Homo sapiens: one gene and its partners. The protein of the gene in region 2 interacts with the protein of the main gene of each other region in a biochemical or structural test. Each region holds a gene or a part of one and is shown on either strand. Other genes may lie near its edges.

Region 1 (5,240 bases), on a different chromosome or scaffold from region 2:
CTTGAGCCTGGGAGGCAGAGGTTGCAGTGAGCCGAGATTGCGCCACTGCACTCCAGCCTGGGTGACAGAATGAGACTCCATCTCAAAAAAAAAAAAAAGAAAAAAAAATTTGTTCACGGTTTTAAGGCAAATTAAGAGTTAAGGTTAAAAAGTCCAAGTTTTAGGGCCGGGCACGGTGGCTCATGCCTGTAATCCCAGCACTTCAGGAGGCTGGGGTGAGCAAATCACGAGGTCAGGTGATCGAGACCATCCTGGCTAACATGGTGAAACCCTTTCTCTACTAAAAATACAAAAAATTAGCTGGGCATGGTGGCGTGCACCTGTAATCCCAGCTACTCGGGAGACTGAGGCAGGAGAATCCCTTGAACCGAGGAGGCAGAGGTTGCAGTGAGCTGTCACGCCACTGCACTCCAGCCTGGGTGACAGAGCAAGACTCTGTCTCAAAACAAAACAAAACAAAAAGAGTCCAAGTTTTACTTATATCCATAAATGACTTCTACAAGAATGTTCAAAGCAGTTTTGTTTATAACAGCCCAAGCTGGAAACAACTCACATGCACATAAAAAAAAACGGATAAGCAAATTATGGTTTATCCAAGCAATGGAAAACTACTCAGCAATAAGAAGGAATGTACTGTGGATACGTGCAACAACATGGATGAATCTCAAAAACTTCATGCTGAAAAGTAAACAAAAGAGTGCATAGGATGATTTTAGTTACTATATATGAAATTCTAGAAGAGGCAAAACTAATCAGGGGGTAGATATGACAGTGGCTACCGAAGCTGAGTATTCATTGCACAGGGGTACTAAATAATTCTTCTGGGACAATGAAAATGTTCTACATTTTTAGGGGTATGGGTTTTATATATATGGGTATATATGGTTATATAGGCATTTGTCAAAACTCATTGAACTGCACACTTAAGATCAGAGCATTTCACTGTTTATAAATTAGGGAGACTGTTCAGTCCCAGTTTTGGGTAGCCTAGAGACAGTTTAAAAAATTTTTTAATTTTGAGACAGGGTCAAAAACCAAAACAAAACAAAAAACTAGAGTGCAGTGGGATGATCACGGCCACTGAAGCCTCATCTTCCCAAGCTCAAGCTCTCTCTCCTCCCACCCCAGCCTCCTAAGTAGCTGGGACTACAGGCATATGCCACCACTCCTGGCTAATTTTATTTATTTTTTTATTTTTTTTATTTTTTTGTGGAGACGAGGTCTATGTTGCCCAAGCTGGTCCTGAACTCCTGGGCTCAAGTAATCCTCCTGCCTCAGCCTCCCAAATTGCTGGGATTACAAACCTGAGCCACCGTGCCCAACCTGACAGTTTTCACTACAAATTCTTTTGTACTTTTTCAACTTACTGTATGCATATAATCATTTTTAAATGGTACTTTTATTCTTTTACTTTAAACCTGTCATGTTTCTAAAATGAATGAGAAATGCTTATTATTCTTTCAAAATTACATAATATCTCTAGGCAGAGTTTCTAAAAGTATTTAGAATTCTGATATTGCATGAAACGGCTAGGGCAGGCGAGCGCAGTGGAGTGCCGCGCGGTGCGGTGCGGGCGGCAGAGTTGGGGTGTCATGGAGGATGAGCGGAGCTTTTCGGATATCTGCGGTGGCCGCCTGGCCCTGCAGCGCCGCTACTACTTCCCTTCCTGCCGGGAATTCTGCCTCAGCTGCCCTGGGCTCTCGCTGCGTTCGCTCACCGCTGTCACCTGCACGGTGTGGCTGGCAGCCTACGGACTCTTCACCCTCTGCGAGAACAGCATGATCCTCTCTGCTGCCATCTTCATCACCCTCTTAGGTCTGCTTGGTTATCTCCATTTTGTGAAGATTGATCAGGAGACTGTTAATCATTGATTCCCTTGGCATTCAGATGACTTCATCTTATGCTTCAGGCTAAGAAAGCACTACCTTCATAGAAATGGGCAAGGTCAAGGATATTGTCATCAATGAGGCTATTTACATGCAGAAGGTGATTTACTACCTCTGCATCTTATTGAAGGATCCAGTGGAACCACATGGGATATCCCAAGTAGTACCCGTCTTCCAGAGTGCCAAGCCCCGGCTGGACTGCTTGACTGAAGTATACAGGAGCTGCCAGGGGATCCTGGCACACCAGAAAGCCACATCAACAAGCCCATGAGCCCCAGCGTTCAGAAGGCCAGCATCGTCTTCCATGGGAGATGACTCTTAAGCCATAAGGGTTGGTTTTCCGTACTCCAAACCATCAGGTGGACACAGTCCTAGGAACCATTATGGATATAGTGCATCTCAGAGCCATAGAGCAGGTGACTGGAAATCTAACTCAGTATATTTCCACGTATTATAGTGTTTTCCTTGTAAGGTTTTGCCTACTTTACCAAAGGAGGGGAGACCTTAAGAATTTTGACACAGTATGTCAAAAGTAATGTCAGCAAAGAACATTGGGAAATTGCTAAGCATGTTCAGGTTTACTTTGTTGATGTTTGTGAAGCAAAACAATGGGAAACTGACATCAGATGTCTTGAGAAAGCTATATTTTCCATTAGTGCCCCTTGTGTAAAGTTACAAAAAAAACAAGCCCTCCAGGAACTGGTTAGCAGGAAGAAATGTCCTACAAAAGACGAGTCTCTCAACCTAGCGCCTGTGTTCTGTACAGGGCTTATTTACTCTTAATAAACAGATATCCTTCCAAAAAAAAAAGAATTCTGATATTGCATTAAACAATCTGAAAAATCCTCAGTAACTCTTACCCCCATGGCTGATAACTTTTTTATAGGGTTCAATTGCCTTCATATCAACCCTGTGGTCCTGTTCTCCAATCCTGAACATACGCCAGCGTCGTCCATCTTCTTTTTCCTCTGCTGCTGTGTATTCAGTAATTGAGCCTTTCCTAATTACTTCAGTAGTCTTGGGTTTTGGAAGATCATCTGTCAAAATACAAAGTTTTTGAATCACAAATTGTTACACAACAAAAATCAAATTATACGTTAACCACTTTACTACCTAGATTTTACAGAGAATTTTCATTATACCATCTGCACAATTTTCAATCTCTCTTCCATAAAGGAGGAAAAGGCTTATTCTTAACATGAGGCTGTTTTATGTCTTTGGAAATCATGGTTCTTTAACTTTTATTGCCCAATTTAGCAAAAACCACCTAATCATAGTGAAACGTGTATCCACAAGTTCAGAAAATATAATTTGTAGAGTCATCAAAATCTTAGTACACTGGCCTTACAATGCCTTTCCAGATTCAACTTGTGACAATATTCTCCCTGGCAGTTATGACTATAGGTTACTTCAAGTAGCTATCTGGGAGCCAATTTTGTTGTTGTTGAGCACATAAATTAACTGTAATACCAGATAGGAAGTGGTTAACTACTCAATGATCACTTCTCATTTGATCAGTTTTATAAAGCAGAAATGTATTTATAATACTTTGAAGTATACATGCAGAAGTCTATTTAAATTAGCATTAGCCAAAGCATAAGCACCAATGATTAAGTGTAATTTATGTTTTGAGATTGCAGTTTAGCTGATTTTCAATGTAGTAATAATTTTCAAAATTTCAGTATTATAGTCCTTACCAAAAGATGGGGGGAGGGGGAAACCTACTGCATGTTAGTTGTTTCCAAGACAAAGCTGTTAACGGAAAATATCCTTCCAGGAAATGACTACAGCAGCATTAAAGAAAGAAGAGACAAAACACATAGGCACAAAACTATTTCAGTATCTTTACAAAGTATTGCTTACTACTGGACTGTTTATTGAACCAGTAAAACAGGGAAGAAAAAAGAAACCAAAAATATAGCATATCACACTTTATTACAGTAAAATACTGAATGCTAAACACTACTATGAAAACAAAATCATTTTCAAGATGGAAAAAAATATGTAAAAATTATAACAACTATATATAAGATACTGTAGACAATTTTGTAATTAAAGAAAGCATGCAAAGTAAAACAGCACAATTCCTTTGAATTACAAGTAATAAGGAATACTAGGTTCGGGGGCTAAAAGTATACATTAATTTAAGTTGGTCATTTCACAAAGTAGAGCAATGTCAGGCAAACCTACTTAAAAAGTCACCCCAAATGCCTCCTTTCAGAACTCCCTTCCCACAAACTGTTAACTATATGTCTCTTCAAAAGTTTCTTACTTGATTGACTAAAAAAGAGCATGCCATAATTATCAAGAAATATTTTTGAAACAGCTATGAAAAAAACATGAGAGCAGTGGGCAAATAAGAGGGGAAAAAAGCCACTGGTGTACTCTATACACACTTTTTAAGTCCTTGAGAATATTCAAGGGTTAGCACAATTTCCTATCTTAGTAACAAATATATGAACTTTAGAAAGAATGATGTATTTCAAACAAAATCCCTTAGTACATTAATAAAGATCAGATTAAAAACAGTGAAACATTTACCTTCCCACTCAAACTCATTACTATTCTCTGACGGTGTGTCTAAGCCATCTAAGTCAATCTCCCCACTTTCATCCAAATCATCTGACAATACAGAGCCATCACTAGGATCCAGTGTCAGGCTAATGTCTGGAGCCATTAGTTTCTTTCTCACTTTATTTCCATTAACTTCTAGTGAGCCTGGAATTGGAAAATAAAGAAAAAGATACGTAACAAGGAATGCTTAGATGCTAAAGTTGAATAAGAAAAATTTTAACTACCCCATTCTTGGGAAAAAATAATATTAATTGAACATAATTTCAAAGCACCTATTCACAAAATTTTTATTCTGATCATTATTGCTTCTACATCGTTGGCAAGAGATCAATAAAGTATCAATGTCTTTTAAATAGAGGCAGACCTTATAGATACCTCTTACCACTAAAAATGATCTCCTCCACCCCTTTACTGTAAAACTTTCCAAAAACCAAGTGTATGTTTTTGGAATTTTTTTTAAAGCATTCTAAAAATGCTTTCCTCAATGTTCAACTTATACTTTGACTTCTATGATGGAATAAAAACTCAAGTTTTTTTTTTTTTTGGACAAAGAAACGTGTTTTAAAAAATAACACAAAGTCCATAATTTCAATGAAAGTAAGTGTCAAGCTCTTACCAGGCTGGTCCTCTGGTCCAGTTATAGCTAGTATATCTGCTTCAATACTATCATCTTCTGGTAAAGGTCTAGAAGACACAGGCATACTTTTTAATCCAGAAATTAAGAAAGAATTTTTTTTTGAAGTTCAATCTATTAAACATACAGCTTATAGAAATAATTAT
Region 2 (4,736 bases):
CAGGCCTCGGGCCCAGCAGAACAGCTTCTCTGGTGCCTTTGCTGCCCACACCTGCTCCGCTGCCTGCTTGGGGTTACCTGGGAGTGGAGGGGGTGTTCTGCACCTTGAGATTGTTCTATGACGTCACTCTGTTCCTTGGCGTCAACCTGGGCTGTGGTCAGGTGTTTATCCTGGATCCATCGCTTGCAGGCTTTCCTCACCACATCCCTGCCCACTCACTACCACCTATTGCAACAACGGCTCCCATGAGAGGGAAGAGAAAACAAGTTTGGATGAAGTGGGGAGGAGAGAATCAAGTCCCAGGGAAAAGCAGCCCCTCGACACATACCCCACTCCCTTAGCCTTTATCCTGCCCTCCTCCCTTCCCAAGTAAATGAGTCTCAACGTGTTCTTTAAAGCGGACGCAACAGAGAAAGACTTGTCAGACCTGATCTCAGAAATGGAGATGATGAAGATGATCGGGAAGCATAAGAATATCATCAACCTGCTGGGGGCCTGCACGCAGGATGGTGGGTGCCGGCCAGACTGGCTTTCCCTGCCCAGCGGGGAGAAGATCTGAGCTGGGGTATCAGTCCCAAGGCCTCTCTCAGCCACAGCTAGGGAAGGGGGTTAAGAGAGGCTGCTTTGGCAGAGGTTTAAAATGTGTTATCTCGGGATCTGGGCTCCGCTCATTGGTGTTCATTCAGGAATACAGATACCTAGATTCACACACGTGGTGTGTTAACAGAGGCAGCTGAGTAATTATGGTCTAAGAGCGCTCAGGCTGGGTGCAGTGGCTCATGCCTGTAATCCCAGCAATTTGGGAGGCCGAGGCAGGAAGATCACTTGAGATCAGGAGTTCGAGACCAGTCTGGTCAAAATGGTGAAACCCCATCTCTACTAAAAAATACAAAAGTTAGCCAGGCATGGTCACGCATGCCTATAATCCCAGCTACTCAGGAGGCTGACGCATAAGACTTGCTTGAACCCGGGAGGTGGAGGTTGCAGTGAGCCAAGATCACGCCATTGTACTCCAGCTTGGGAGATACTCCCGCTGTCTCAAAAATAAAATAAATAAATAGGCCAGGCACAGTGGCTCACGCCTGTAATCCCAGCACCTTGGGAGGGTGAGGCGGGTGGATCACTTGAGGTCAGGAGTTGGAGACCAGCCTGGCCAACAGGTGAAACCCCATCTCTACTAAAAATACAAAAAGTAGCCGGGCGTGGTGGCGCATGCCTGTAATTCCAGCTACTCGGGAGGCTGTGGCAGGAGAATCGTTTGAACACGGGAGGCGGAGGTTGCGGTTAGCCGAGATCGCGCCATTGCACTCCAGCTTGGGCAACGAGCAAAACTCCATCTCAAAAAAAAAAAAAAAAAAAAAAAAAATTAGCCAGGCATTGTTCATGCCTGTAATCCCAGCTGCTTGGGAGGCTGAGGCAGGAGAATCACTTGAATCCAGAAGGCAGAGGTTGCAGTGAGCCGAAATTGCGCCACTGCACTCCAGCCTGGGCAACAGAGTGAGACTCCATCTCAAAATAAACAGACAAACTGGGGCTCTTACCCCAATGTTGCTCGGGAATTTTCTGGACTATGCTGGGAGTAATTATTTCTCTGATTTTTTTTGGGTAGTAGAATGGATTTCCCAGGTCCCCTAAGAGGAGGCAGGAGATGGGAGGTTGGCCGGGGTGTGCTGCTGGGGGTGGGGTTTCTTTGAGGTGAAGCCAAACCTGCTCACCTGCTGCTGGCCCCATGGCCTCTTCTCCTGTGCCTGCAGGTCCCTTGTATGTCATCGTGGAGTATGCCTCCAAGGGCAACCTGCGGGAGTACCTGCAGGCCCGGAGGCCCCCAGGGCTGGAATACTGCTACAACCCCAGCCACAACCCAGAGGAGCAGCTCTCCTCCAAGGACCTGGTGTCCTGCGCCTACCAGGTGGCCCGAGGCATGGAGTATCTGGCCTCCAAGAAGGTGTGGAACCTGAAGGCTCCCCTGGGTAATGCCAGGGTGGGAACAGAGCCCCCCTAGTCTTCCAGCCTGTGACTTATCATCTTGTGGTGGCGTTGTGGATGCACTGAGCACTGGCCCTGTGTGCCCTGTGTGTTGTCTTAGGCTCTCTGGGAACTGCAGAGTCAGGAGCACCAGTGTAGCCAGGTGGCCTTGGGGTCAGACTGATGCAGGGTCCGATCTGTGCACTGCCACTTTCTGCGTAGCCTCAGGCAGCTACTTAGCATCTTAAAATTCTTCAAATACAAAATAATAATAATATCAGCTGGGTGCAGTGGCCAAGGCGGGAGGATTGCTTGAGCTCAGGAGTGTGAGACCAGGTTGGGCAATATATTGAAACCCCGTCTTTAAAAAAAAAAAAAAAATTAAAAAATTAGCTGGGTGTGGTAGTGCGTGCCGATAGTCCCAGCTACTCGGGAGGCTGAGGTGGGAGGCTAGCTTGAGCCCAAGAGTTTGAGGCTGCACTGAGCCATGATCACACCACTGCACCCCAGCCGGGGCGACAGAGCAAGGCCCTGTCTCAAAAGAAAATAAAGTATAACAATACCTGTTGTAGAATTGTTATGAAGATAAAATGAAACTGTCTGTGAGTGTTGAGTGCAGTGTTTGGTGTGTAAGGGCTGGCCTGGTTTGAGCCCAGCCCCATGTGGACTTGCTGTGCTGGGAGGCAGGACCTAGGAGCATGCATCGCTGCAGACGCAGCAGAGGCATAAGGGGCCAGTCTTTGGGGAAGGAAGGGAGGAGCGCTTGCTGTGATGAGAAGCCTGGAGCTGGCAGAGAATGTTAGAAGAGGGAAAGCAAAGGTTCGGGGGGCAGAGCAGTGTGGCAGAAGTTCTATGAGACAAGTCGGCTAGTTGCATGGGTGGCGGCCGCCCAGAGCCTTCCAGCTCCCTCACCTCCCCGCCTCCCGCTCTCCCTTCCTCCTTCCTCAGTGCATACACCGAGACCTGGCAGCCAGGAATGTCCTGGTGACAGAGGACAATGTGATGAAGATAGCAGACTTTGGCCTCGCACGGGACATTCACCACATCGACTACTATAAAAAGACAACCAACGTGAGTGCCGACAAGGCCGCCCTGTGCTGGTGGTTTCATCTGAGAAGCAAGGAGTGGGGTGGGCTGAGAACCCACCCCCCAGTCCCTTCCCACCTGTGCCCTCATGGCCCTGCCTGGGGCCACTCCAACCTCCCCTGTGCTGCTTTCAGGGCCGACTGCCTGTGAAGTGGATGGCACCCGAGGCATTATTTGACCGGATCTACACCCACCAGAGTGATGTGTGAGTTTGTAATAGCAATTGCCAGGGAGGTGTGGGATAGAGAGCTTCTAGCACTGTAGAGTCCTGCTTTCTCCCTGGACTGAGGAGTCCTCTTTCTGCCCCAGAGAGAAAAACAAAACATTGTCTGTGGCCATTCCCTCTGCTCCAGATGTTGAAAGGCTGATCTGTTCTCCATGCTGTCTCCTGGCACTGCCCTGGGTAGAGGATTTGTGCTGGGGGAGGGGAGGCGGAGAAGCTCTAACACCCTGTGGCTCTCCGCCCATTTGCAGGTGGTCTTTCGGGGTGCTCCTGTGGGAGATCTTCACTCTGGGCGGCTCCCCATACCCCGGTGTGCCTGTGGAGGAACTTTTCAAGCTGCTGAAGGAGGGTCACCGCATGGACAAGCCCAGTAACTGCACCAACGAGCTGTAAGCCCGAGGAGATGTCGGAGGCCCTGAGCCAGGCCTTGGGGCAAGAGTGGGCTTGAGGGGCAGGGGGCTAGACTAGAGAGTATCCATCTCCAGGAGACGTCCCTGACCTTACAGTCCTGCCGCAGGTACATGATGATGCGGGACTGCTGGCATGCAGTGCCCTCACAGAGACCCACCTTCAAGCAGCTGGTGGAAGACCTGGACCGCATCGTGGCCTTGACCTCCAACCAGGTAAGGCTGCCCGTGCCAGAGCCAGAGCTCAGGCCGTCCCCACTGCGTGCACGCACCTCCCTGAGCAGGGAGGAGGGGCCCGGCCCATCGCTGCTTCCTCTCGCCCATCACAGGAGTACCTGGACCTGTCCATGCCCCTGGACCAGTACTCCCCCAGCTTTCCCGACACCCGGAGCTCTACGTGCTCCTCAGGGGAGGATTCCGTCTTCTCTCATGAGCCGCTGCCCGAGGAGCCCTGCCTGCCCCGACACCCAGCCCAGCTTGCCAATGGCGGACTCAAACGCCGCTGACTGCCACCCACACGCCCTCCCCAGACTCCACCGTCAGCTGTAACCCTCACCCACAGCCCCTGCTGGGCCCACCACCTGTCCGTCCCTGTCCCCTTTCCTGCTGGCAGGAGCCGGCTGCCTACCAGGGGCCTTCCTGTGTGGCCTGCCTTCACCCCACTCAGCTCACCTCTCCCTCCACCTCCTCTCCACCTGCTGGTGAGAGGTGCAAAGAGGCAGATCTTTGCTGCCAGCCACTTCATCCCCTCCCAGATGTTGGACCAACACCCCTCCCTGCCACCAGGCACTGCCTGGAGGGCAGGGAGTGGGAGCCAATGAACAGGCATGCAAGTGAGAGCTTCCTGAGCTTTCTCCTGTCGGTTTGGTCTGTTTTGCCTTCACCCATAAGCCCCTCGCACTCTGGTGGCAGGTGCCTTGTCCTCAGGGCTACAGCAGTAGGGAGGTCAGTGCTTCGTGCCTCGATTGAAGGTGACCTCTGCCCCAGATAGGTGGTGCCAGTGGCTTATTAATTCCGATACTAGTTTGCTTTGCTGACCAAATGCCTGGTACCAG
Region 3 (5,240 bases), on a different chromosome or scaffold from region 2:
TTTTTGATAGCTTACAAAATGTTACAATGTTATGAAGACATGGCGATTGTGTGTATACTTAAATTTCCCTGGGGAAGAGCCAGACTTTGGGTTACAGGGACTATTTAGTCACCTAAATATCAACCATTATCCACTCCCAGTAGAACAGTATGTTAATCACTCAGCTTATCAGATATTCGCACAAAGAGAACAGGAGACACTTTGGTTAGTAAATAAATATTGTACTAAACTTTCTTTAAACCTTGAGAATGTCAAAATTTGCCTAACTTCTTCCAATTATACAGGGATTACTAAAAAGAAAAAAGCCAAGAAATGGAGGTTATAAAGTTACCCTTGTAAAGGCAAAAAAAAGAGAAAGCCTAGCTTAACTCTCCACAAATCTCAAAGTATAGGGCATGTTACAGTTTCAAATAAGATTAAATATTTCCTAAGAGTTAAGCAGTAGGTTTTAAAAGCTGTTCTTCAAAATGAAAATCCCAAAAAAGTTTATTGGGATTAGTGCTATAAATCTGATGATCTTTTCAATGTTCTACTTTTTTGAAAGAGGCCAAAATAAGTTTTTGAAGGAAAATTAAGTGCCCAACAGAACCGTTTCTGCTGTGTTGGTTTAGTGTTGTTATTTAAAGTGGAAGAATAATCTTTCTTATGTTTTTAACAGTTGGCATGGACTAAGAAAGAACATTCTCTTTCATAAAGAAGTAACGTTTTCCTGCTACTGAAGCAAGTGGCAGCATGGCTTAACCCCATATGATGTCCAAAACAGTTCAGATAAAAATAAAATAAAAAGAGCAAAGTGTTAGAGCAAAATGTGACAATTAAAAATCCAAGAAAATTAAGCTTCACCTGACGAAGGCGTTTATTGGATGTCCCTGGACTACTTTTCCGTAAATTGCAAAATGCCTGCAGACCTTTCATCCAATCCTGCAAAGAAAAACAGCACTTCAAAGAAATATACACTAGTTTATTTGGCTTCCAAATCATCAGTTAGGTTTTTTTTTTCAAATTCAACAATTTTTTCCTTCTCTAGACTGCCATTTCTATTCTCAGACTATACTGTACTTCATAACAATAACCAATAATAAAATAACAATAACATAACAATAACAATAATAAAACAACCAAAACAATTGTAATTCTGTATAAATCTTTGTTTGAATTTATGTATGAAACACATCGAGTGGCCATTAATTAGCCAAAAAATCAAATTTACATTAAAGAAACTATTTCTCCCAAACAGATACTACCTTGGGGAAATTAACTGTATAATTAAGCTGTTATACTTGAGGCAAGCTTAGGTGGAATTTAACTTGATACACTTTGTGAGAGGGGGAGAGTGCTGATTGTAAAACCAACTGATAATGTGATGACCGATCCCATGACAAGCATATTAATCTATACTTTAGACCATGATACAGGTAGAAATGTATAAGGGGATTTGGGTTATTTTTAAGCTTCTCAAATATAACATTAGATTTTAAAAATCATTTTAGCCTAATATTCAAATCAAATTGCAGCCATATTTTTAAAATGTTTATCTAGTGCTTTGGGGAAAAGGAGAGAACTAAGGTTTATTAAAAACAAATCTAAATATTCACTTTGGTTTTTACATATTTCTGGAAAGCTGTGTACTATTGCTTTATTCAATTATGTCTTTAGTTTGTTGGCTATTTCAATGAAGCTGAACTTTATTAATATCTAGAGACTGTCTTTATATTACAGCAAATTAAAACCAAATCAGTTACCATAGCTTTTTGAAATAGAAGAGAATAACCAGAGACCCCCACAGCCCAATAAATCAACAAAAACTGGAAATACCATTTATGGAAATACAGAAATATTATGTATAAATACATTAAAAAATGTTCTATGTTAGGCTTGCAAAACATGCTGAAATGTCATTATGGTATGTGACATTTTATTCAGAAAGAGGGACCATGGTAAAATACTTAGAAAATAGGATACTGAAGTTTAAATTTCTAACTCAATTTCTAACATTTAAAAAAATCATGTAAGTTACCAAAATGTTTTGAGCACTACCTTTCTCATCTAAAAATTAGGGATACATAGCCGTAAAATTTTATGTGCATTACATGTGAAATGAGCATTAAATGAGATATTTGATAAAGATGTGAAATATGACGTTCAGTTGTAAGCTCATTCAGGTTTATTCTGTGAGTCTCACGCTAGGATCTAGTTTTAAGAGCATCTTCCTCATATCTAGGGTTGGCAAATTATATTTCCAACAAAGCCACTTTCACTTCTTAACCACCTTTAAGTTCCTTCGTTAGAATATAAGCAGAAATTTAGCTGTATTTGTATAAAATACAACCATATACTCCAGAAATATTAGGGTTCAAAGAAAGCAAAAAAATTTTTTAAGAGACAGTGTCTCAGTTTGTTGCCTAGGCTGGCTTACAGTGTCTCGATCTTACTCACTGTAACTCAAACTCCTGTGCTAATGCAATCTTCCTGCCTCATTCTACCCAGTGGCTGGGACTACAGGCATAAGCCAGAACACCTAGCTAATTTTTTACTTTTGTTATAGAGGTGGGTTCTCCCTTTGTTGCAAAATATTTTTTAAAGAGTGTTTTTTAAAAAATATTATTTCTTCACACAATTACTTAATAGACGCTATAAGAAGGACACTGCACATGGATTAATAGCTAATCTAAAGTAGACATTATATCTCGACTTGGCTTAGAGAATAGATTCCTAAAATATCTTTCCTTGTGTTGACTGACTTTTATTTTCAGACATGGAGTTCAACCAGTGAAGAATAATGCTTGTTAGCAAAACTAACTGGTTAACTGGCTTACCTTTGGATTATACTGAGATGACCTATAACCTTTATGCAGAGAGGATTTTAAATGAGCATTCTCAGTTGGCCTCAACATCATAGAGTATTTAAAGGTCAATTTAAAATGGAGTTTTCATTCCTAATAACCCTTCACTGTGTTTGTTTTTGCATTTCTTTCAGAAAACTTTTTACATATGAAATCTCATTCCTTAAAATAAGAGATGATTAGATTTCAGGCGTTCTGTCACTTTATCTTGAATGCGATCATTTTCTATTCCAGTTAATAAGAAAACATGGGCTAACATAAAAGTATACTGTAGTTTGAGAAACAGTAATCTTACCTCTGCTTGTTCTGGAGTTTCTCCTGCAAAGTAAAAGATGTAATGTTCTTCACTAAAGTGCTGAACTACTATCTGAAAACAGTTTGGCCTTTAAAATAAAAACAAAAATTATTAGGAAGCTTAATAAAAAGTAGCAAAATATTTATACCAGCTTCCAAAACACTCACAATAAATAATTAACATAAAATTATAATTCTTAAAGAAATAATACTCCATTGTACCAGATCATTACTAAAAAAAAGTCAGCTATATATATTTTAGAAAACTTTATGTCAGCACTATTAAAATGTTATCAGTATTTCAAAGTGTAAACTAAAGAAATTTCAATTAATTGTAAAATACATTAGAAATAAAGTTACAAACAGATTGAAGCTGAACTGCTAGAACTGCACACAGCTAATTTGAAAAGCTTTATATGCACTGGAAAAAGACTAGAAATGTTCTTAGACCAAAAATGTTCTAAGTAATTATCTCTAAGGAGATTGTAGGTGATTCTGTATTTTCAAATTTTTCTAAACTGATCATTTTTCTTCACCTGTTAAAATGGAAACATCATCTCTTCATACATATGCTTGTTCTAGAGTTTAAGTGAACAGTTGTGTACAACAAATGTTCTTGTCTTCCTTTAGTATTATTTCAAATCATTTGATATGTAAGTACAATATTAGGTAATAATTTATATCATTTTGGAAATGTGCTATCTTTCCAACTAGACTTGAAAATATTGGTAAAATCTTTATTAAGGGCCTGCATGTTTTTGGAACTCAATAAATGTTACTTCTGTTTCCTGCTTTAAAGATTTTATATCATGCTAATGTTAGGAGGCCATAGCAAAAATACACAGAGGACAAGCTTAACACTTATTAAAGATAAAGACTATATTTTCATGCTTTGAGAATGTCTTAAAAGTAATCATGGAAAATAGGAATTGGAAACTTCTAATCCTAAATGTTGCCTGTATCAGACTAACCACCCTAGTTGGATAAAACTTAAAATAGTAATACAAAACAGAAAAACAACTGTTTGAAAGCACTGGAGAACAACCAAAGCAGCTAAGATTTGAGGAGCCAAGATCATACTATAATTAACCCGACATTCTCCACATCTTTTCCGTTCAAGGCAGTTGCCAGTTCCTAAGCTGGCTGTGTAGCTGAGACGCTAAGCAGAAAATAGTTCCTAAAAGGCTAAAAAATTAACTACAAATCCAGTAGTTTGATAGTGCTAGGAGAAAAAAGAATGAATTTCAGGCTTTCCATTGAGACCCCTGAAGGGCTGTGCCTTCATGATAAGGGCAAACCAGAAATAGAACAGCCTTTACAAGATGTACTAACCCTATACCATCCGTAAGAACAATTCTTTCTGGACGCAATAACATTAGTTTCCATAGTTTTTCATGTACAATGTCTACCACTTAGTCAAACTAAGTAGACACTACAGGCATCAGGATTAAATGGCTAAAAGTTAAGATGAAAAACCAGAAAGACATACATATAATGCAGATACTGAAGACAGACAAGACTTTCAAGTAATTATAATTAAAATGTTTAAGAAAATAGGTAACAAGAATTTTGCCAGAAACTGTATCTTTAAAAAAATGGAAATTCTAAATTGAAAAAAATGTAATAAAATGAAGTCCTGAAAAAGTGGATTTAACTGCAGAATGGAAGATTAGTGAACTGAAAGATCAGAAGAAAATATATAGGTTGGTACAGAGGAAAAAGGATGAAAAACAGAAAACAGCATGGGAAATAGTGCAACTTTTTTTTTAACCAGACTCCAAGAAGAAAAAGGAATGTGGCAGAACAACTGTTTAAATTAGATACTAAACATTTAAACAGATACTAACCAAGAGTTTTCTAAAACTGACAAAGAACATCAGGTCTCAGATTGATGAAGCACTACAAACCTAAGGATAATTTTTTTTTTAATTTATAGTTGGTACATTTTAGTTTTCCCACTAAAAATATAAGGAAAAATCTCAAAGCATCCAGAGAAAGTTGTGTGAGATACATTACCTCTAAGAGAAAAGACAAAGATACATTACCTCTAAAACAGAAACAATTTGAATGACAACGAAAATGTTGGAAGGCAGAAAACCATCT
Region 4 (5,240 bases), on a different chromosome or scaffold from region 2:
GTTTAGAAGTAACAAACTAAAGTAATACTGATCGCTGAATTTCAAGTGAGCTAAAATTTCTCCTTCCCCCTAGAAACTATATAAATCTCTTAATTTTGAGGCCAGGCACGGTGGCTCACGCCTGTAATCCCAGCATTCTGGGAGGCCGAGGCGGGCAGATCACAAGGTCAGGAGATCGAGACCATCCTGGTTAACACGGTGAAACCCCGTCTCTACTAAAAATACAAAAAATTAGCTGGGCGTGGTGGCGGGTGCCTATAGTCCTAGCTACTCGGGAGGCTGAGGCAGGAGAATGGCGTGAAGCTGGGAGGTGGAGGCTGCAGTGAGCTGAGATCGTGCCACTGCACTCCAGCCTGGGCGACAGAGCGAGACTCCATTTCAAAAAAAAAAAAAAAAAAAAAGTCTCTTAATTTTGAAAGGGAAACACTTTCATTTTTCCTCTTTATTAATGGCAGATATATTTATTAAAGTGCTGGTTTATAAATAGGTTAGAGAAATAAAACAAGAAAAGAATCTCAAAATAATCTACTGAAGAAAACAAGGCAAGTACATATTTAAAAAAATATACCATGATGGGCACGGTGGCTCACGCCTGTAATCCCAGCACTTTGGGAGGCCTAGGCAGGTGGATCACCTGAGGTCAGGAGTTCGAGACCAGCTTAGCCAACATGGCAAAACCCCATCTCTACTAAAAATACAAAAAATTAGCTGGGTGTGGTGGTGGGTGCCTGTAATCCCAGCTACTTGGGAGGCTGAGGCAGGAGAATTGCTTGAACCCGGGAGACAGGTTGCAGTGAGCCAGACTGTACCACTGCACTCCAGCCTGGGTGACAGAGCAAGACTGTGTTTAAAAAAAAAAAAAAAAAAAAAACAAAACACCAATCACACTACTGGGAAAGAACAGTTATTTAGGGTATAGGGTGGATGAGCCAGGATATTTAAGATATGTTTATTATCTGAGAGAACAGTAAGAGGCCCCTTTGGAAAATGTCCTGAGAAAGCTGAGGTGAATGTGGGGCCTATCTCATGTGCTCACCCTGTCAAGGATCGTGGCTTTCACTGACTTACCCGTCCAATGCCACAGTTACCCATCCAATGCCACAGTAAAGGGAAGGAGTGGGGAGAGGGAGAGGCAGGGGGACTATGAGAAGAAATAAAGGCCTTTTCCCCGCTTACAATTCTGTTCCTAATAAACTCCTGATAAAGCCACTCATGAGATAACCAAGAGCTATAAAATGCAAGCTTACCTGGATATGGCACTCGGCCCTTTGTTACTAGTTCTGTTTGCAGAATTCCAAATGACCAGACATCAGACTTTATTGTAAACCGACCATACAGTGCAGCTTCAGGAGCTGTCCATTTGATTGGAAATTTTGCACCTAAAATAATGTTGACCATCTTGCTTAATTGTTTTTTAAAAATCTATTTGTGTAAACATAGCATATGCAGGGCTAATGTTCTGTCAATATCTCTACTGTAGTCATCAGTGTCAATTCTTTAAATGTACAAGATACATGGGATAAAAATTCTTTAATTTTTAAAATTCATATTGAAATAAATCACATTTCTTCCTGATTAGACAGCTGATGATATAAAAAATAAGTTGGCTGTGGGAACAGAAAACAATTTAAGAAAATAGAGGTTGAAGCTCTAGTAAGCCAAAGATACATGTTATAATATGTGTAACTTTTAAGTACAGTCTGGCACCTAATAGCTGTAGTTAACTATTGGTTGATGAGTGAATATTCTATTGAGTTATAATGTTTATGGGTTTTCCTACTTTTTATATCATTCTGGAAAATTTTATTGTACTACTTTTAAAAGTCCATGTTAATTAACTCAAATACTTACTGTATATCTTTTTTGTGGAGGGCATTATGCTAATCACTATGGAAACCTAAAAAGCATGGCTTTCGGCCGGGCGCGGTGGCTCAAGCCTGTAATCCCAGCATTTTGGGAGGCCGAGGTGAGTGGATCATGAGGTCAGGAGATTGAGACCATCCTGGCTAACATGGTGAAACCCCGTCTCTACCAAAAATACAAAAAATTAGCTGGGCGAGGTGGCAGGAGCCTGTAGTCCCAGCTACTCGGGAGGCTGAGGCAGGAGAATGGTGTGAACCCAGGAGGCGGAGCTTGCAGTGAGCTGAGATTGCGCCACTGCACTCCAGCCTGGGCAACAGAGTGAGACTCCGTCTCAAAAAAAAAAAAAAAAAAAAAAAAAAAAGCATGGCTTTCATGAAGTTTATAAACTTATTGCAGAAATAATATTATAGGTGTCTTACATTCTTTAAGTTATTTATATGTGTTTGTAGATAGTGTTTTAAAACAGAGTTCTTTAGATATTTAGACAAACAGATGATCAATTTTCCTTGGCACCATTACAAAATGTTTTATTTAAAAAGTGGCAGGTGGTTGGGCACAGTGGCTCACGCCTATAATCCCAGCAATTTGAGAGGCCGAGGTGGGCAGATCACCTAAGGTCAGGAGTTCAAGACCAGCCTGGCCAACACGGTGAAACCCTGTCTGTACCAAAAATACAAAACTTAGCCAGGTGTGGTGGTGCATGCCTGTAATCCCAGCTACTCGGGAGGCTGAGGCAGGAGAATTGCTTGAACCTGGGGGGCAGAGGTTGCAGTGAGCCAAGATCATGCCACTTCACTCCAGTCTGGGCAAAAAAGCAAAACTTGGCCAGGCGCGGTGGCTCACGCCTGTATTCCCAGCACTTTGGGAGGCCGAGGTGGGCGGATCATGAGGTCAGGAGATTGAGACCATCCTGGCTAATACGGTAAAACCCCGTCACTACTAAAAATACAAAAAAAAAAATTAGCCGAGCTTGGTGGCAGGCACCTGTAGTCCCAGCTACTCGGGAGGCTTAGGCAGAATGGCGAGAACCCGGGAGGCAGAGCTTGCAGTGAGCCAAGATCGCGCCACTGCACTCCAGCCTGGGTGACAGAGTGAGACTCCATCTCAAAAACAAAACAAAACAAAAAAAACCAGGAGCAACTACAACATACAACATCACTAATCATCAGGGAAATGCAAATTAAAACTACAGTGAGACACTACCTTACTCCTGTAAGAATGGCCATAATGAATAAGTAAAAAAAAAAAACAATAGATGTTGGTGTGGATGTGGTGAAAAGGGAACATTTTTCCACTGATGGTGGGAATGTAAATTAGTACAACCACTATGGAAAACAGTATGGAAACTCCTTAAAGAACGAAAAGCAGAACTACCATTCAATCCAGCAAACCCACTACTGGGTATCTTCCCAAAGGAAATGAAATCAGCCAGGTGTGGTGGCTCACGCCTGTAATCCCAGCGCTTTGGGAAGCCAAGGCGTGTGGATCACCTGAGGTCAGGAGTTTGAGACCAGCGTGGCCAACATGGTGAAACCGTGTCTCTACTAAAATACAAAAATTAGCCGGGCCTGGTGGCAGGTGCCTGTAATCCCAGCTACAGGGGAGGCTGAGGCAGGAGAATCATTTGAACCTGGGAGGTGGAGGTTGCAGTGAGCTGAGATTGTACCACTGCACTCCAGCCTGGGCAACAGATTGAGACTGTGTCTCAAAGCAAAAAAAAAAAAATCATTATATGAAAAAGATACATCCACAAATGTTTATAGCAGCACAATTCGCAATTGCAGATATGGAGCCAATCTAAATGACCATTGACCAATGAGTGGATAAAAAAAAATGTGGCATATATACACCATGGTATACTACTCAGCCGTAAAAAGGAATGAAATAATGTCTTTTGCAGAAACTTAGAGCTAGAGGCCATTATTCTAAGTGAAGTAACTCAGGGATGGAAAACCAAATATTGTATGGTCTCACTTAAAAGTGGGGCTAAGCTATGAGGACACAAAGGCATAAGAGTAATATAATGGACTTTGGGGAGTAAGGGGGAAAGGTTGGGGGGTGGATAAAAGACTACATGTTGGAGGTGAAACCCCGTCTCTACTGAAAATACAAAAATTAGCTGGGTGTGGTGGTACGAGCCTGTAATCCCAGCTACTCGGGAGGCTGGGGCAGGAGAATCGCTTGAATCTGGGAGGCGGAAGTTGCAGTGAGCCGAGATCGTGCCGCTACACTCCAGCCTGGGCTGGGCAACAGAGTGAGACTCCGTCTCAAAAAAACAAACAAAAAAACCTACATATTGGGTACAGTGCAAGATGCTTGGGTGATGGGTGCACTGAAATCACCACTAAAGAACTAGTTTCCCAAAAACTATTGAAAAAAAAAGTGGCAGCTAAATTAGGCCCTAAAGAATGGTTAGGATTTTCACATGTAAAGATTACAGGCCGGGCATGGTGTCTCACGCCTGCCATTTTAGCACTTTGGGAAGCCAAGGCAGGAGGACTGCTTGAGCCCAGAAGTTCGAGACCAGCTTGGGCAACATGGCAAAACTTCGTCTCTACAAAAAATACAAAGAATTAGTCAGGCGTGGTAGTGTGCACCTGTAGTTCCAGCTACTCAGGAGGCTGAGGTGGGAGGATCACCTGAGCCCCAGGAGGTCAAGGCTGCAGTGGGCTGAAATCACGCCACTATACTCTAGCCTGAGCAACAGAGGGAGACCCTATCTCGAAAAACAACAACAACAACAAACATTACAGATAGGAAGGCATTCCAGATGGAGGTAACTGTACAGAAGTATGGAGGTTGAAAGAAAGCACTATGTCTAAAGCAGGGTTTCTCAATCTCAGCACCGCTACCATTTTGGGCCTGATAATTCTGTTGTGGGGGGAAGGGGGGGTTTGCCTGCACATTTCTGTACACTGTAGGAGGTTCAGCAGTATACCTGGCCTCTACCCACTAGATGTCAAGCAGTAGCCCCCAGGTTGTAACCACCAAAAAAGTCTGTAGACATTGTCAGATGTCCCCTGGTGAGTGGCGGTACAGGGCAATATCTCCTCTGACTGAGAACCTCTGGCCTTTCTAGGAAAGAAATTAAAATATATTTGTTGTCATGTCAAAAGAAGTGTAAAGAGGCTACTACTTGCTCTATGTATAATGCAAAGGATACCTAGTCAAGTTCTTTCTTGGAGGAAATAACTATCAGAAAGCCACAGCAGTACATGATTTTATGAATGAAATCAATGTCTCTATGACTCTTCTGAGGGAAGCTAAAACAATTCTTATTCTGGAAAACCCTGTATAGTCAAGAGAGTTAAGCAAAACACACAACACATTACAAGCTTTTATGTAAAAGTAATTTTACCTTGTCTTGCTGTGTATTC

What was found.
Region 1: of the proteins of FGFR1 (region 2) and BNIP2, one has a biochemical effect on the other in vitro, tested with the Homo sapiens proteins (one study listed by BioGRID).
Region 3: the proteins of FGFR1 (region 2) and RASA1 form a complex in vitro, tested with the Homo sapiens proteins (one study listed by BioGRID).
Region 4: the proteins of FGFR1 (region 2) and YES1 form a complex in vitro, tested with the Homo sapiens proteins (one study listed by BioGRID).

The regions. Positions count from the first base shown.
Region 1 is NC_000015.10:59,675,165-59,680,404, forward strand, and holds part of BNIP2 (BCL2/adenovirus E1B 19 kDa protein-interacting protein 2), read right to left. Parts: intron 5,145-5,240; coding exon 5,077-5,144; intron 4,605-5,076; coding exon 4,428-4,604; intron 2,924-4,427; coding exon 2,747-2,923; intron 1-2,746.
Region 2 is NC_000008.11:38,413,079-38,417,814, reverse strand, and holds part of FGFR1 (fibroblast growth factor receptor 1 isoform 1 precursor), read left to right. Parts: intron 1-398; coding exon 399-509; intron 510-1,754; coding exon 1,755-1,945; intron 1,946-2,913; coding exon 2,914-3,036; intron 3,037-3,185; coding exon 3,186-3,256; intron 3,257-3,525; coding exon 3,526-3,663; intron 3,664-3,791; coding exon 3,792-3,897; intron 3,898-4,010; coding exon 4,011-4,187; 3' UTR 4,188-4,736. UniProt on the Homo sapiens protein: Tyrosine-protein kinase that acts as a cell-surface receptor for fibroblast growth factors and plays an essential role in the regulation of embryonic development, cell proliferation, differentiation and migration.
Region 3 is NC_000005.10:87,367,799-87,373,038, reverse strand, and holds part of RASA1 (ras GTPase-activating protein 1), read right to left. Parts: intron 3,227-5,240; coding exon 3,139-3,226; intron 922-3,138; coding exon 844-921; intron 1-843. UniProt on the Homo sapiens protein: Inhibitory regulator of the Ras-cyclic AMP pathway. Stimulates the GTPase of normal but not oncogenic Ras p21; this stimulation may be further increased in the presence of NCK1.
Region 4 is NC_000018.10:731,587-736,826, forward strand, and holds part of YES1 (tyrosine-protein kinase Yes), read right to left. Parts: coding exon 5,222-5,240; intron 1,380-5,221; coding exon 1,248-1,379; intron 1-1,247. UniProt on the Homo sapiens protein: Non-receptor protein tyrosine kinase that is involved in the regulation of cell growth and survival, apoptosis, cell-cell adhesion, cytoskeleton remodeling, and differentiation.